Regions from separate parts of the Homo sapiens genome. Here region 1 is linked to region 2. The links come from fine-mapping of genetic effects on gene expression. Tissue or cell type: aorta. Region 2 holds a variant in brackets; the other region holds the start of a gene. All regions are shown on one strand. Distances are between the middles of the regions.

Region 1 (6,648 bases), 140 kb before region 2:
CTCAACAGTATAATATATATAATAATTGCACTAAAAATTGGGCAAAGGACATTAACAGACATTTCTTGTCTGTATAAAAGAAAGTCTGTATAAAAACAGACAGACTCATAGACCAATGAAACAAAATAGAGAATCCAGAAATATTATTAAGTCCACATATTTATGGCCAACTAATTTCCAACAAAGGTGCCAAGAATAAACATTGGGGAAAAGACATTCTCTTCAATAAATGATGCCGAGAAAACTGGAAATCCCTATGCATAAGAATGAAACTAGACACCTATCACTCACACAGTTGATCACAAAAATCAACTCAAAAGACTTTCTTTTATATAGACTTTCTTTCTCAAAAGAAGTCATACAAATGGCTAACAAGTTTATTTAAAAAATGCCCAGCATCATCAATCACCAGAGAAATGCAGATCAAAACCACAATGAGACATCATCTTACCACAGTTAGAATGACTATTATCAAAAAGACAAAAAATAACAAAAGGTGGCCAGGATGCATAGAAGAGGGAAATTTTATACACTCTTGATGGGAACATAAATATGTATAGTCATTATAGAAAATAGTCTGGAAGTTTCTCAAAAAACTAAAAATATAACTACCATATGATCCAGCAATCTCATTACTGGGTATTTATCCAGTAGCAGGAAAGGAAATCAGTAAATCAAAGTGACATCTGCACCCCTATATTTATTATAGCACTATTTACAAGAGGTTGATATGGAATCAACCTAAGTGTCTATCAACAGATGAATGGATAAAGAAAATATGGTATGTATATTCAATAAAATACTATTTAGCCATAAAAAATGAAATTTTGTCATTTACAGCAACATGGATGGCACTAGAGATCATTATGTTAAGTGAAATAAGGCAGGCACAGAAAGACAAATATCACATGTTCTTGATATATGGGAGTTTAAAAAGTTGATCTCATGGAAGTAGAAAGGAGAATGATAGTTCCCAGAGGCTGGAAACACAGGGGCAGATGAAGAGAAGTTGGTTATATGTATACAAACATATACTTAGATAGAAGGACTAAGTTCTAGTGTTCAATAGCACAGTAGGCTGACTATAGCTATATATTGTATATTTTAAAACAGCTAGAAGAGAATATTTGAAATGTTTCCAACACAAAGAAATGATAACTGTTCAAGGTGATGAATATCCTGTGTACCTTTATTTGATCATCACACATGGTATGCATATATCAAAATATCACATATATCCCACAAATATGTTCAAATATTATGCATTAATAAAAATGATTTAAAAAAATTGAAGGGAGCCAAAAAGAAGTCATGTTTTAATGCCAGGATAAGAAAGGCAATAATAGAAAAAACAGCATTCTAAAACTGACATAGTTTTCTGATATTGAAGTCTGGATTTTAGGGAAGGTACACAGTTCACTGCAGATTAGGACATTTTGAGGCTTTATGTTGGTAGGAGCAGGATATTAGTGATAGTACTTACGTTGTATCAACAGTTGTGTACAACCTGAGATGGAGCAGATGGTTTGAGTTTTGAGAATATTAAGCTTGTGGCAGATAAATGGAATTTTTGCTAAAATATTAAATATTGGTTAATAAAATATTTTCAACCAATCCTTCTTTAAATAATTAATCCCATCGAAACAATCATTACTGGTGCTTCATGCACTTCAGAGAAAATTCATTGTGGAACCACGATGTTAACTTTTCAATTTAATTCACTTCCATGCTGCTGGAGTCCCATGAGCACTAGATTGAATGCCAGGGGTGGTGGGTCAAGGATTCAGGCAAGTTTGGGCCAATTTGGAGGGTGGAAATAGGGAACCACATATTATTCTATTTTCACAAAGGCCCAATGAATTCTGTAGGGAAGAAGTCATGGCAAAATAAAGGGCTGCAGTTTTAAGCAGCAGAGATATGGGCGGCCATCATGAGTCCCAGCAGGGACTTCTAATGGGTTTGGTGTAGAGGACAGCCACTTCCAGTAAGCTGGAACCTAAGGGATAAGGAATAAAATGGTAAACACTGGAAGAACAAGTTCTCAGAATACGAGTGAAAAATGTGTGTGAGGAGGGGTTCCCAAAACTATAAGAGGACTTTGAGGGGTTTTATTCCAATAGACGCTGTGGGAATATACTTTTTGGCATCCATTATTGTTACTCTGGTCTTAGCCTGTTGTCACCTGGAAAATGCAGATTACTTTTATATCTCTGGAAAGAATAGTGGCTTGGTCATCAGATGGCACACTCAAAAGGCACACATAAGTAGGTTTCTTGTCTCTGTCTTTAAAACAATAAGCACTTAAAGTATCATTTGGAGAAAACAGCAGTTACCAGGAAATCACTTAGCTGAGATAAAAAAGAAAAGAATCCTCGAATAGCATTTAATCTTCAAAATAAGAATTTTCCATTCTTGGGTCAGACCGATAGATGACATGGCATTTAGACATCCAATTCATACCTTTGCTTGCAACTGAGCCTCAGACACACATATATGATGGAAATGTTCTTTGGCATTACACTGCTTTCTTAGTTTGCATCGCTAGTCACCTTTGTATCATTTGCATCTGATTTGGAAAATATTTTAGAACAACCCAATAACAACTTCGAGATTAAAAAATAAAATTCTACACACTTTACAGTTCCTTGCTATTACATGAATGTGTAAATTGAATTCCCTCTCAGGAGAAAAAAAACAAAACAAGGGCTGGCTTCCCAAAAATGTTTTCACTGGCTTTAGGGAACTAAAACACCAGTGTCTGGGTGAGTAATACTTCCTGTAAAATAAAGATAGATCAACACATAATTAAGTCCTGGCTCACATATAATTGTTGTTTTGGAAACAGTTTTGAGGATAAATATGGTTATGCTAATGAAACTGCCCATGATTTCCACTAATGATCCAGTTTATTAATTAGGTCAGGACATTTTTCCACCTTGTGCTATCCATTTTGGAATGCTGAAAAGGGTTAAAAAAAAAAACTTCTAAGAGAACACTGTAGGCGAAGAAAAAGAGAGAAATTTTAAATTAGTTATCAACTCTTCTAAGGATTCCAGTTGGAGGAGTAGATCGAAAGTGCTTTTTCGATTATTTATGGGTTTCGAAGATTCTTCCTACTCCACTAGGCAGAAAAACAGAGTTGTAATATACAGCATTTAGAATTCATAATCCTTAGCATTATTTCTCTGAACTCGACATCCTAAATAGCCAGCGTTTACTAATTCCAGAGCTGAGTGTAGTTTTGTAGGAAGTTCTACTGAATGCGGAGACCAAAGGGGAGCCTGCCTGCTCTGAGGGTTTTGTTGAGGCTGAGTGTGAACTCCGGGCGAGAAAGCGCATCTCAGCTCTTAGATCACACCCACTCAGGGTGTGCGTGTGTGTGTGCGCGGGTGCCTGCGCGCGTGTGTACGTGTGGGGAGGTGTGCGCCAAAGGGGTGGGGTGAGGGGCGGCGAGGAGGGCTGTAGGTGAAGCGCGGGGAGAGGGAGGTCGCCCGCTCCGGCCTCTCCCCCAGGGGCCCTGCGGCTGGCCAGCGCTCCGGCTGCACCTCCTGGTGCGCGCCGCGGCGGCGCCACAGGCCCCTCGACCCTTTGACCACCGCCCTCGGGCCGCGCGTCCGGCAGCCGGGACCGGTGATGGCGCGGGACTGACGGCCGTCTCCTCCCAGACCCCTCTGTCCCGCCTGGGGCTCGCTGGGGCTGCGGCGCCGCCCCGAGCTGCATGTGGGGCGGGCGCGCCCGAGCCCAGAGCGAGCGGCCCTCGGCGCCCCCGAGGCGGTGCCCCGCCGCGCCAGAGTACGAGGAGGAGCGGCGGGCCGGGCCAGGCTCCCCACGCGCCGCAGCCTCGGAGCACGGGCTCCCCGGAGGGGACTTGGGGCGTCCCAGCCCAGGAGGAAGGACCCGGAAGCAGAAGCGGAGCCGCGAGTCGAGCCGAGCCACTGCCCCCGCTGCCCGCGGGCGCCGGGTGGGGGTCCCGGCGGCTGGATGGGCAGCGGCGGCGCGGGCCGCGGGCGGCGATGGGCGAGGAGCAGAGCACGGTGAGCGGCGGCGGCGGGCCCCAGGAGTCGCAGACCCTGGCCAGTGGCACTGCGGGCCACCCTGAGCCCCCGAGGCCTCAGGGGGACAGCGCCCGGGCGCCCCCGCTGCGCGCCGCCTCCGCGGAGCCGAGCGGCGGTGGCTGCGGAAGCGACTGGGGCTGCGCGGACACCAGCGCCCCAGAGCCCGCGAGGAGCCTGGGGCCCCCGGGCTGGAGTAAGAGCCGAGCACCGGCGCAGCCTGCGGGACTGGCACTCACCGGGCCTCTCAATCCCCAGACCTTGCCACTGCAGTTGGAGCTGGAGGAGGAAGAGGAGGAAGCTGGGGATCGAAAAGAGGGAGGGGATGAACAGCAGGAGGCGCCCCCCGGCGAAGAGCTGGAGCCCAGGACCCGCGTGGGGGCCGCCGACGGACTGGTCCTGGACGTGCTGGGTCAGCGGCGCCCGTCCCTCGCCAAGAGACAAGTCTTCTGCTCCGTGTACTGCGTGGAGAGCGACCTGCCCGAGGCCCCCGCCTCGGAGCAGCTCTCGCCGCCCGCGTCGCCACCTGGGGCTCCGCCAGTGTTGAACCCTCCCAGCACCCGCTCTTCCTTCCCCAGCCCCCGACTGTCCCTCCCAACGGATTCCCTCTCCCCCGACGGCGGCAGCATCGAGCTGGAGTTCTACCTGGCGCCCGAGCCGTTCTCCATGCCCAGCCTGTTGGGAGCTCCACCCTACTCTGGCCTGGGCGGTGTAGGGGATCCCTATGTGCCCCTCATGGTGCTGATGTGCCGGGTGTGCCTGGAAGACAAGCCCATCAAGCCCCTGCCTTGCTGCAAGAAGGCCGTGTGCGAGGAGTGCCTCAAAGTCTACCTGAGCGCCCAGGTAACTTCACCCCCTTCTCTTCCCCATTTATCATTCCAAATCACTGGCGAGGAGGTCCTGCTCTCGATCTGATCTCCCTGCTCGCGCGAAGAGGTGACCGACACACTTACTGAGGATCTCTGTTAGTTTCTCACGTCTCAGTTGTTATTTAAGTGTATTATGACCTCACTGGTTTACTTAACTGGAATTTAACTTTGCTGTGAACTTCAGGCTATGGTTGGCATGTGTAGAAGGCACAAGATACAAGTTGTTGCCCTCCTCTTATTTCTTATACAGGATTGCAAGCACAAGCTTGCTCAAAGGAGGAGAGGAAGAGACTGCCTCATCGGCCTGGTATCCCAGAAACTAACAAGCAGTGGGCATAGAATAAATATTTATGGAGCTGGTGGAGAAAAGAATTGGAATAAATATTTCAGACCCATAATACATGAATTTGTAATTTTGCTTCATTTGTATATTCCAGGAAAGAGTGAATGTTTAAAAAAATGTATCCCTTGGCCTTTGCCTACTTTTCAGTTTCCTTTTTCCACAGTAAAGTTGAAGTACTTTTCTTTCACTGAGGTTTTAAGCCAGCACTCTTTAAGAGGGAAGCAAAACAGAAAGAGCAAAACAAAGCAAAGAGAGGCTAAGAGGTTTCTCAGAACAAGCACTGGTGAAACTTTCCTCCTCTGCTTTTATTTGAAAACTTGGTTTTTTTTCTTGGAAAGCTTGAGAGTGCACCAGACCAGCTTTCCTTCACTGACGGTGAATGCGTTCTTCCAGCAGTTTTCAATCTGTGATGTTTCTGCCAGTGTTTTGCACAATCCTGGATGCCCTTTGATCCTGTGTCCAATTGTCCTAGGCCTATTCATCTTTCAAAACCCTGTGTGTTCAGGTGCCAACTCTTCTGTGAAGCGTTGCCTCACCCTCCAAGTCACTGCTTATATACTTTCACAGTATCTTATATTATCTTACATGCACTGAAGTTGTTTCTTTCGTGTCTGCTTGTCTTGTTAGACTGTCTGGACAATGTCTTAGAGTCCCATATGTGGTAGCTTCATGTTGAGTCCCTTGCCCATCATAGTGTTTTTAATAACATTGGCTGGGACAAACTGAACAGGGCTCCGTACCATGTGATTCCTCTATGTTTTTTGGCTAACTCATGCTTGGGTCTAGACTGAAAGTGTGTACAGTCCCTAACTAAAAATGCAAACAAAGACTTAAAACGGTATGTTACATAAACAGTAAGTTGGCTAAAATAGTTGGGATTATTTAAAAGCCTCTGAGAGACTGTTGTTTCTTTCATGCTTTATCTACAGAGATTCTTAAAACAGGAGGAATGTCTGCTGCTGGTTGTGGTAGTTTCTGTATCATCATCCTCAAAACAGATTTCGCTGCCCTGCGATGGGATTCAGACATTTCCAAAATATAAGCCCGCCTCCAGGGAAGTCACTGTGAGAGCAGATGTGTACAAAAGAACAATACAAGGTAGCATGGGATGAGATGTCAATAGAGTAACAATTCCAGATAGCACTTCCTGTTAAATGCTGGATACACATTCCAGAAATTCAAGGGAGGTAGTCATTGTGGCTTGGGGTACTTTACCTAGCAGTTTGATTTCCTTATGGTGGGCCCTTTCCCCAAAGCAGTTTTCTTTTTCTTTATTAAACCTCATAAGTTAGTTTTAGGAAGTTTTAGTAATGGTAGTAGGGAGACAGAGGGACATAGTCAAGTGGTCATTGCAGTGTACAGTACAACCACTAAAAACTCCTCT
Region 2 (8,564 bases):
GAAATTTGCATGCAGGAGGCTTATTGCTAAGGTTTACTGCACATCTATGAAGGAGTGAAATAAACAGGATTGGGCAGGGAGAGAAACTAGACTGCAATGAAGTCCCCACACAGGCCTGAGCTCATCAGCCATAACCTATCAGCCTGAAGCTGGGAAGGCTCTGCAGAGAGTTGTCCCAAATTGAAATGAGAGTAAGCCTTAACACTCTGCATAGATCAGTCATTGAATGGGAGCTGCCCTTGGAAGCATGACTTTGGGAGGAGGTGACCCTTTCAGCTGAGAACACTCCAGAGTGGGTTCAGCTTAGAACTGTCAGTCATCAACACTCTCAGGCTGGGCAGTGAACGAATCAGCCCCCGGAGTGGGTGGGTGGGATGAGACAGAGTAGCTTGGGGCAGGAGGAGAGGTGTGGGGAAAGGTGAGAGGTGGAGGTGAAACCTGGATAGCACGTTCCAAGTTAACCTCTCCAGTCCTTGCTCACTGTTGAGACATTGGGATCCCCCCCAACCCCCGACATTAAACAGAACTCTTCCTTCCACCATGCTCTATTAATATAATCACCAACAGATTGGTTATTTATTTTTGCTTATATTATGCATGAGGCCCTCTAGCAAGAACGTGAATTCCATGAGGTCACGGATCATGTTCTATTCATTTTTGGGTCCCCTCCACCGTCTATGGTAACTGGCAGGTACATCATAGGCATTGAAACGTTTGAGGAACAAATTACAAAACTATAAAACAAAAAAGTTTTATAAGAGACGTGCCCAAGACGCCTCAACTTCAGAATGGTGAAGCCAGGGATTCCAACTGGGTCTCCCTTCTCCAGAGTTGTAAGTGCACTAGGTTAGAATCAGCGGAAGAGTGGGAAATGGGAAGAACACGAAGCTGGAAATGGGAAACCTTAGTTCCAGCCTTGGTTTTCATCCTCCAACTGGCATGCTAACTTGCCCTCTCTGGGCTTCCTAGGTCTCTTATTCCTTATATTGGAGGTGTTGTTATGGATAATTTCAAAACAAATCTTTATCTAGCGCCTACTATGCGTTCACATAGTCTGTTCACGTGTATGTAATCCTTACAACCCCTCTGTGGTGTTATTAGTATCCTCGTTTTATAAACAATGTGGGAAAGAAAACAACAAAGCTAAGCCCAGCTAAACTAAAAAATAAAAAATAAAAAATACAGTTCAATGGTTTGTTTGAGGTCACATAGCAAAGGCTCAACTCAAACTCAGGTCTCCTGCTTGCCAGTCTGCGGTTCCTGCCATGGGGAAATTCTGTTATCTTTGAAGAAAATAATAAGTAAGGGAAGAGAGAGATGCCCTTTCACAACTGCAAAATTCTCTCCTCCCCAGTTTCCAGCTCCCATCATCAACAAAGAAAACCACGAAAACAAAAACAAATCCGGATTGCCTTTGTCCACAGTATAGAGGGCGGGGGCGGGGGCGGGGGCGAGGGCGAAGGCGAGGGCGTCGGCGGGGCTGCAGCCTCCACGCAGAGACCACTGATGGCTCCGCGCCGCTCAGTTGATCCCTTCCCACTGCACGGAGCGGGAGACTAAAGGCCCACTGCCCATGGCTGCGAAAACCTTCCTTCGGGAACGCGGAGCTAGTGCACGGGGGCATGTTCTTCCCCCGCAGCCCTGGCAAGCAGAGGCCGGCGGCCTGTGGCGCGGGGCAGTTGTGCTGGCTGCCGGGCGGGGCTGCTCTGGGTCTGGGTGCACGGAGAGGAGCGCGGAGTGAAGCGCACGGTGCACACTGCGGGGCGCTGCTTGTCACCTCCCTGCCCCTCCCTCTGCCCTCCCCCGCTGTCCGGAGCACAGTCCCGGGAGGGCGGATGTCCCCTGGGAAGATGCGCGAGGAGAGCGACTGGGAGGCAGCTAGCAGCACCTGCGTGTGGGCAACACGACCCGAGGCTGTCTCCATTGCCTGCGTGCTGAAAGCATAAAAGCTTTTTTTTTTCTTTTTTTGAGGAAGTAAATGTGTAAATTAAATTACTTTGGTGGGGGTTAGAAAACAGTTTTCCTCAGTGTCATGGTGACATCTTCCATCTGCCAGTTCACTTTTCATAAACCTGCTGATACATTTTCTACATCTCATTAAAAAGGTAACCCAAAAGAAAAGTAACGGGGGGAGAAGGAGATGAAAGGGAGAGAGAAAGGAAAGACAAAACGAAGAGAAAGTTAAAAAAAATAGACTAGGAAAGAGGGCCCACCAGGAACCAGGAGGAGCCCTGGGGATGGGGTCGGGACGAAAGCTGGCAAGAATTTCGGCTGAGTTCCTTTAACAAGTAGAAACGTGCGGGGTTGTGTGCGATTTTCCTGGAAAATCCTCACAACCCTATGAGATAAACATTATTCCCATTTCAGAGATGAGGAAAGTGAAGTCAGGACAGAGTTGCATCATCAATCTGATTTGAATACCAAGGGCAAGTTTTTTCCCACTACATCAGGGTATCCTGATCCGTTTTAAACTATTAGAATCACCGTTGTTGCATTATTTATTAGCCTTGACAGAGACTGAATAACCTCCCCCATCACAGAGTCTGCAAGGACAGAGGTGTGATCTAAACCTGGGCCTGGGAGCCCTGAGCTATCAAGCTAGACTGCTTCTCAGAGCCCTTCTCTTGTTAACCAGGGACTCTGAGGCAGGGTACCCAAACTGTCCTTTGACATCTGCAACTCTAAAAGAGTAATTGGAAATTGGGGAATAATAACACAACAGATAGAAGTTTTTGTTCCCATCAAATGAGACAGTGTATATGAAAGTACATAGCATAATACCAGTTATTTTCTTTCTGACATTCAATTCATTGAAAGTTTATTCAACATTACTTATTCAGTTTATTAGTAGTAGTAGTAGTAGTAAGCATGTTTAGGGCCCCTCCTGTGTTATTAGACATACCCTGTATGTGGATCTTGGTGAAGGCTGGGCTCCAATCCTGGTCTTGTGGAGAGTACTAGGCAAAGATTTAGGACAAATGGATTCCTATCTTGAATTCTTACATTAATTTGCTCTGTGATATTGGCATAGCCACATACCTTCCCAGACTTTGGTCTAAAATCAAGGAGTGCAAGGGTAGTCTCTAAGATCTCTTTCAGCAATGAAATGTGGGTCCATGTAACCTATATTTAAAGTTAGTTCCAACTGTTCAGTTCTATTATTTCTGTAATCCAGACAGGCCCTGTCAAGCAGCTGTGCATCTGCATACTCCCATAGGCTGGGTCTCTACCTCCTCCTCCTCCTCCTCCTCCTCCTCCTCCTCCTCCTCCTAACTCCTACTTCTCCATCGTCCTCAGCCCCAGCATTTTCTCCTGCTAGATGCCATCCTGCCTGTACCATCCAGGGTGCATCACCATGGCCCCCTCTGTTAAGGACTCTTTGTAAATCACCACTGAGCAAGGCACTTGTATTAGTTTTCTAGGGTAGAAGTAGCAAAATACCACAAACTGGGTGGGTTACAACAACAAACTTAATTCTCTCATAGAGAGGCCTGAAGTCTGAAATCAAAGTGTCAGCAGCACTGTTTCCTTCTGGAGGCTCTGAAGGAGAATCTGTTTTTTGTCTCTCTCCTCGCTTCTGGTGGTTGCCAGCAATCCTTGGCATTCTTTGACTTGCTGTATCTTCACTTCACTTCAGTCATTGGATATAGGACCCAACCTTATCCAGTGTCATCTTTGGGGCAGAAATGTGTTCTCTCTAAATTCATATGTTGAAGTCCTAATCCCCACAGCCTCAGGCTGTGACTGTATTTGGAGATAGAATCTTGACACAGGGAACTAAGTAAGGTAGAATGAGGTCATACGGGTGGGCCCTAACCCAATATGACTGGCATCCTCATAAGAGGAGATTGGGACACAGGCATACACAGAGGAAAGTTCATGCTGAAGACATAAAGAAAAGATGGCCAACTGCAAGCCAAGGAGAGAGGCCTCAGAGGAAATCAACCCTGTTTACACCTTGATCTTAGACTTCTAGCCTCCAGAACTGTGAGAAAATAACTTTCTATTGTTTAAGTCCCTCCCACTCCAGGTCTGTGGTACCTTGTTATGACAGCCCTAACAAAGGAATACAGACCTTCACTTAAATACTACAATTACATCCACAAACACCCTATTTCAAATAAAGTCACATTCTGAGGTTCCAAGAGGACATTAACTTTTGGGAAGACACCATTCAACCTATTACAGCACTTTTCACAGTTTCCTTCAGGTCTTTGTGTTCCTTCAAGGCAGGGACAATTATCCCCAACAGGGCACAAGTCCTGGCCCTTAATATGTGCTCTACAAAGGGAGAAGGAAGAAAGGAAGTAAAAAGTAAAAGAAAAGAAAGAGAGTAATAACAGAAAAGAGAGAGGAAGGAAAAGGGAAAAAAAAGGAAGGAAAGCTGCATGCTTTCCTAGTTTCCTCGTTTCAATTACATCCTTCAAAACAAAATACTGTTCTTCTTGAGCAAAAGATTTCTTAAAGCGTCTTTGAATTTCTGTGTGTATGCAATTTACTTTGAAACATGCAAAGGAAAGAAATAAGGGAAACGTGATAATATCCTGTTGCCTCATTGCTGGCCCTGAAAAACACTTCCAAGGGGTTGCCCAATTAAATATAATACACTCAGTTAAATTTTAATTTCAGATAGACAAGCAGTAATTTTTAGTATAAGTATGTCCTAAATGTGATATATATAAGTGTGTGTGTACATATATGTGTGTGTGTATGTGTGTGTATATATATATACACACATATATATATATACACATGTACACTAGACATGATAGAAAGAACATAGACATTGGGCCCATACAAATTTAGGCTCCAGTTTTTACTACCTTTTAGCTCAGGGACCTGGGGCAAGTTACTTAATCTCTTTGTATGTCAGATTCTTCATCTATAAAATTATAATAGAC[C/T]TATGGGAAAGGGTTGTTGGGACTTTAAAATGTCTGGTATGTGCTGCTTCCGTAACTAGAACAGTGTCTAACACATAGTAATCAATGACTCAACAAATATTTTTGAAGGAATGAAAGAACACATTCCCTTCTTCCCTATATGGACTTCCCTGGAGGATTGGGACAGCCAACCCAACAATAGCAGGGGCCCTAGGACAGGCCACAGCACAGTCCAGGGAGCACCCCAGCCTTCCATGGTAGAAAACCCACTCCACATCCACTGTTCCTCGGAATAATCTGGTTTTAGGATGCAGGGGACATACAACCAATTTGATACAGGCAGAGTTTTCCTTCTAGAAAATGTGTGTGTTTTTATTACAGAACAAAGGCGACAACATCTTACACTAAAATTCAAAAGTCTGTAAACCTTAGAGAACCTATTTCCATATGTAATGCATTGAATTTAAAGGCACACTCCTATTTGTGAAGGTGATTCTAACTAATTTAAATGGACCTAAATAGTTTTTAAATAGCAATATAAGCAGATGCTATCTTATTAGAAAATCATTTGAGCAGCACATTTATTTCCTAGAGCTGGAATCAAATCGTTCTATCTCCTTCTACAGTATGCATTTTTATGTAATCAATTGGTAATAGTGAAAAATATCTTAAAAGTGCATTGTTTCTTGACAGAAGGCTATTTCTTTTCAGAAATAAAAATCATTGTGAAAGAAGATATTTATTCTTAATGCTACAACTGAAACTAGGGGTTTTGTTATTGACTTGCTTCCTAATCAAGAAACTTCCATCATATAAATAAGGTGGTCTGGGTAGTGAAATGAGCATTGATTCAGGAGTCGAAAAACCTGGTTTCTGTGCCTCCTCCTGGGTGCTGCAGCCTCGGACCAGGTGCTCAACCCTGGAGCCAAATTTCCTTCCCTTGACTATGAGGGGAACCAGCTCTCTCATATACTTATACCATATTATATAACCAATAATATGCAATAAAATCAAACTACAGCAATTATAATCCTCTTTTACAATTTTATAAAGTTAAATTTTGCTTTAACAACTATAAAATGGGAATAAGTGTACTTTGGATACCGTTCGTGTAGGAAGCCCAAAGTAGTATTCAATGAATGGAAACTCCCTTCCCCCTTCCCTCAAGCAAATCACTCTTAACCCAGAAAATGTTATTGACAACTGCTGGGTTATAATTGTGATTTTTTTCCCCCCCGCCCCCAATTAATATGCTTCCCATACTGGCCATTAATTCAACATTGAATGAACACATATTAGCTTGCCAACTTTGAATGTTGTTTTGCTCAGTTAGACATGATTTCATACCTTAAGACTTTTTAAGGCTTATATTTTTTAGCCTATCTACTATTTAAACTGGGTACAGGAAGTGCCAGTTTAAGGAGGACAGCCCCAAGAAATGGTCCAGGCATTTCATGAGGGAGATTGGATGATTTTCCCCTCAACCAGCGGCACAGAGGCCCTTTCAATGCCTAGAAATAGATCTCCTATTGAGCCTCTGTTTATCTCCTCTGACCATAAAAAGCAGCTGGCTCTGCAGGAAAGACTGGTGGCTGCAATTAACTCCAGGAGGCCAGAAGCCGAAATCCTGTGCAACACGAATAAAGGCTTCTCAAAGAACTTGTGGAGTCATGTTGCTAGCTCATTGCTAGAACCATTCAGTCTTCTGAGGAAGAAATCTGTGAGCTAAACACCAAACACATCACTGTAAAATTTCCTGTAACCACCAGCGGCACTCCAAATCATTCCATTATTCTCTGAGTTGCTTCACAGTGACTGGGTATTAAATCTGCTGTGTGGCTAAATGCTGATGGCATTTTGTTAAATGAAAAGCATTTTAAAGAGGATTGGTTGATCCAATTGTTCTCATATTCTATTACTTTGCATTCAAACTTAACTCAGTATTAGACTAATAGTAACTATGAAAATAAAAAGAAAGCAGAATCTGATTTTTTTAAGTCCACTGGAGGCAATAAGAAGTTTCTATTGGAACACTTCACATGTTGTTAAACAATTACCAGATTATTAGAAAACACTTTCAAATACCTCTTTGATCTTTGCTAAGAGCCCTGATGAACATTTTTCTTACTGCTTATATTCCCCACAGATAAAATACAAAGACCTGGAAAATAGCAATAATCTAATTATTAGGCATATGTCCAGGAACAGAAGTGAGAAGTAGTAAAGGCAATCAAATGTTCATCTGAAACCTATCCCAGATGAACAGTCCAACTTAACTTGGTGCTGTTATTCTTTTTTTTTTTTGAGATGGAATTTCACTCTTGTTGCCCGGGCTGGAGTGCAATGGCACGATCTCCCCTCACTGCAACCTCTGCCTCCCAGTTTCAAGCGATTCTCCTGCCTCAGCCTCCCAAGTAGCTGGGATTACAGGCATGTGCCACCATGCCCAGCTAATTTTGTATTTTTAGTAGAGACAGGGTTTTTCCATTTTGGTCAGGCTGGTCTTGAACTACCAACCTCAGGTGATCTGCCTGCCTCAGCCTCCCAAAGTGCTGGGATTACAGGCGTGAGCCACCGCGCCCGGCTGGTGCTGTTATTCTTAAACCAAAAAAAAAAAAAAGACTCCAAATCTTCAACCCAAAAATTTCTTTAAGGCTGAACAAATGTGTTTAAAGCTATAGGTAACCATAAGGTAACCAGAAATCTGAGGAAAGGTGTTGACTGATTACACTTGCTAGCAACTGATTGCCTCTATATGGCTGAAGTAAAAGGATGGAACTAGGAGGTATCAATACAGGGTGGTTGGGATAAGTATAACAATAAAGGTAAATATGGCTTTTTTTTTTTTTTTTTTTGAGACAGGGTCTCCCCCTGTAGCCCAGACTGGAGTCCAGTGATGCAATCATAGCTCACTGCAGCCTTGAATTCCTGGACCCAAGTAATCCTCTCTCCTCAGCCTCTCACGTAGCTGAGACTATAGGCATGCACCACCAACCCCAACTAATTTTTTTAGGTTTTGTAAAGACAGAGTCTTGCTATGTTGCTCAGAGTGGTCTCAAACTCGTGGTCTCCAGTGATTCTCCAGCTCCAGCCTCCCAAAGTGCTGGAATTACAGGTGTAAGCCACTATGCCTGGACCATAAGACAATTTTGTAGACATTTTAGGCAAAATAATTACATTAGCCTCCAATACACACACACACATACACACATATACACACACACATACACACACACACGCGTGCACACACACCCCAGACATAAGTCGTGTGTATGTGTATGTTCTAGAGCTTGCTTCTGTCGGTTTGTGAGAGTCGACTATGAGAGTCTCTTCTAGACTATGTTCAGTAACATCAAGTTGGCAGTTTGAAATTGGCAAAGATGAGAGTACACTTCTAAAACTGGCCAACTGTGCAAACCAGAGGGTTGCCTTTTGTTGTTGTTGTTTGTTTGTTAGTTTTGAGACAGAGTCTCTCTCTGTCACCCAGGCTGGAGTGCAGTGCTGTGATCATGGCTCACTGCAACCTCCGCCTCCTGGGTTCAAGCGATTCTTATAGCTCAGCCACCAGAGTGGCTGGGACCACAGGTGTGCACCACCACACCAGGCTAATTTTTGTATTTTTAGTATAGATGGTGTTTTGCCATGTTGCCTAGGCTGGTCTTGAACTCCTGGCCTCAAACAATC

The links. PIP is the estimated chance that this variant, and not a neighbour inherited with it, causes the effect.
Region 1: it holds the start of RNF217, and the variant in region 2 is fine-mapped to the expression of RNF217 in aorta (GTEx, PIP above 0.99). The same link has a PIP of 0.9 or more in lung.

The regions. Positions count from the first base shown.
Region 1 is chr6:124,958,532-124,965,179 of GRCh38, forward strand. It overlaps RNF217 (ring finger protein 217), which reads left to right and starts at 3,906. Exons shown (of 6, transcript NM_001286398.3): 1 at 3,906-4,895. The coding sequence starts at 4,014. It overlaps RNF217-AS1 (RNF217 antisense RNA 1), which reads right to left and starts at 4,496. Exons shown (of 7, transcript NR_026876.1): 1 at 4,292-4,496.
Region 2 is chr6:125,098,085-125,106,648 of GRCh38, forward strand. No RefSeq gene overlaps it. Among named protein-coding and RNA genes, the nearest start is that of TPD52L1, 51 kb to the right of the region's middle. RefSeq lists a silencer at 7,322-7,555. The variant C/T (reference allele first, on the strand shown) is at 4,902.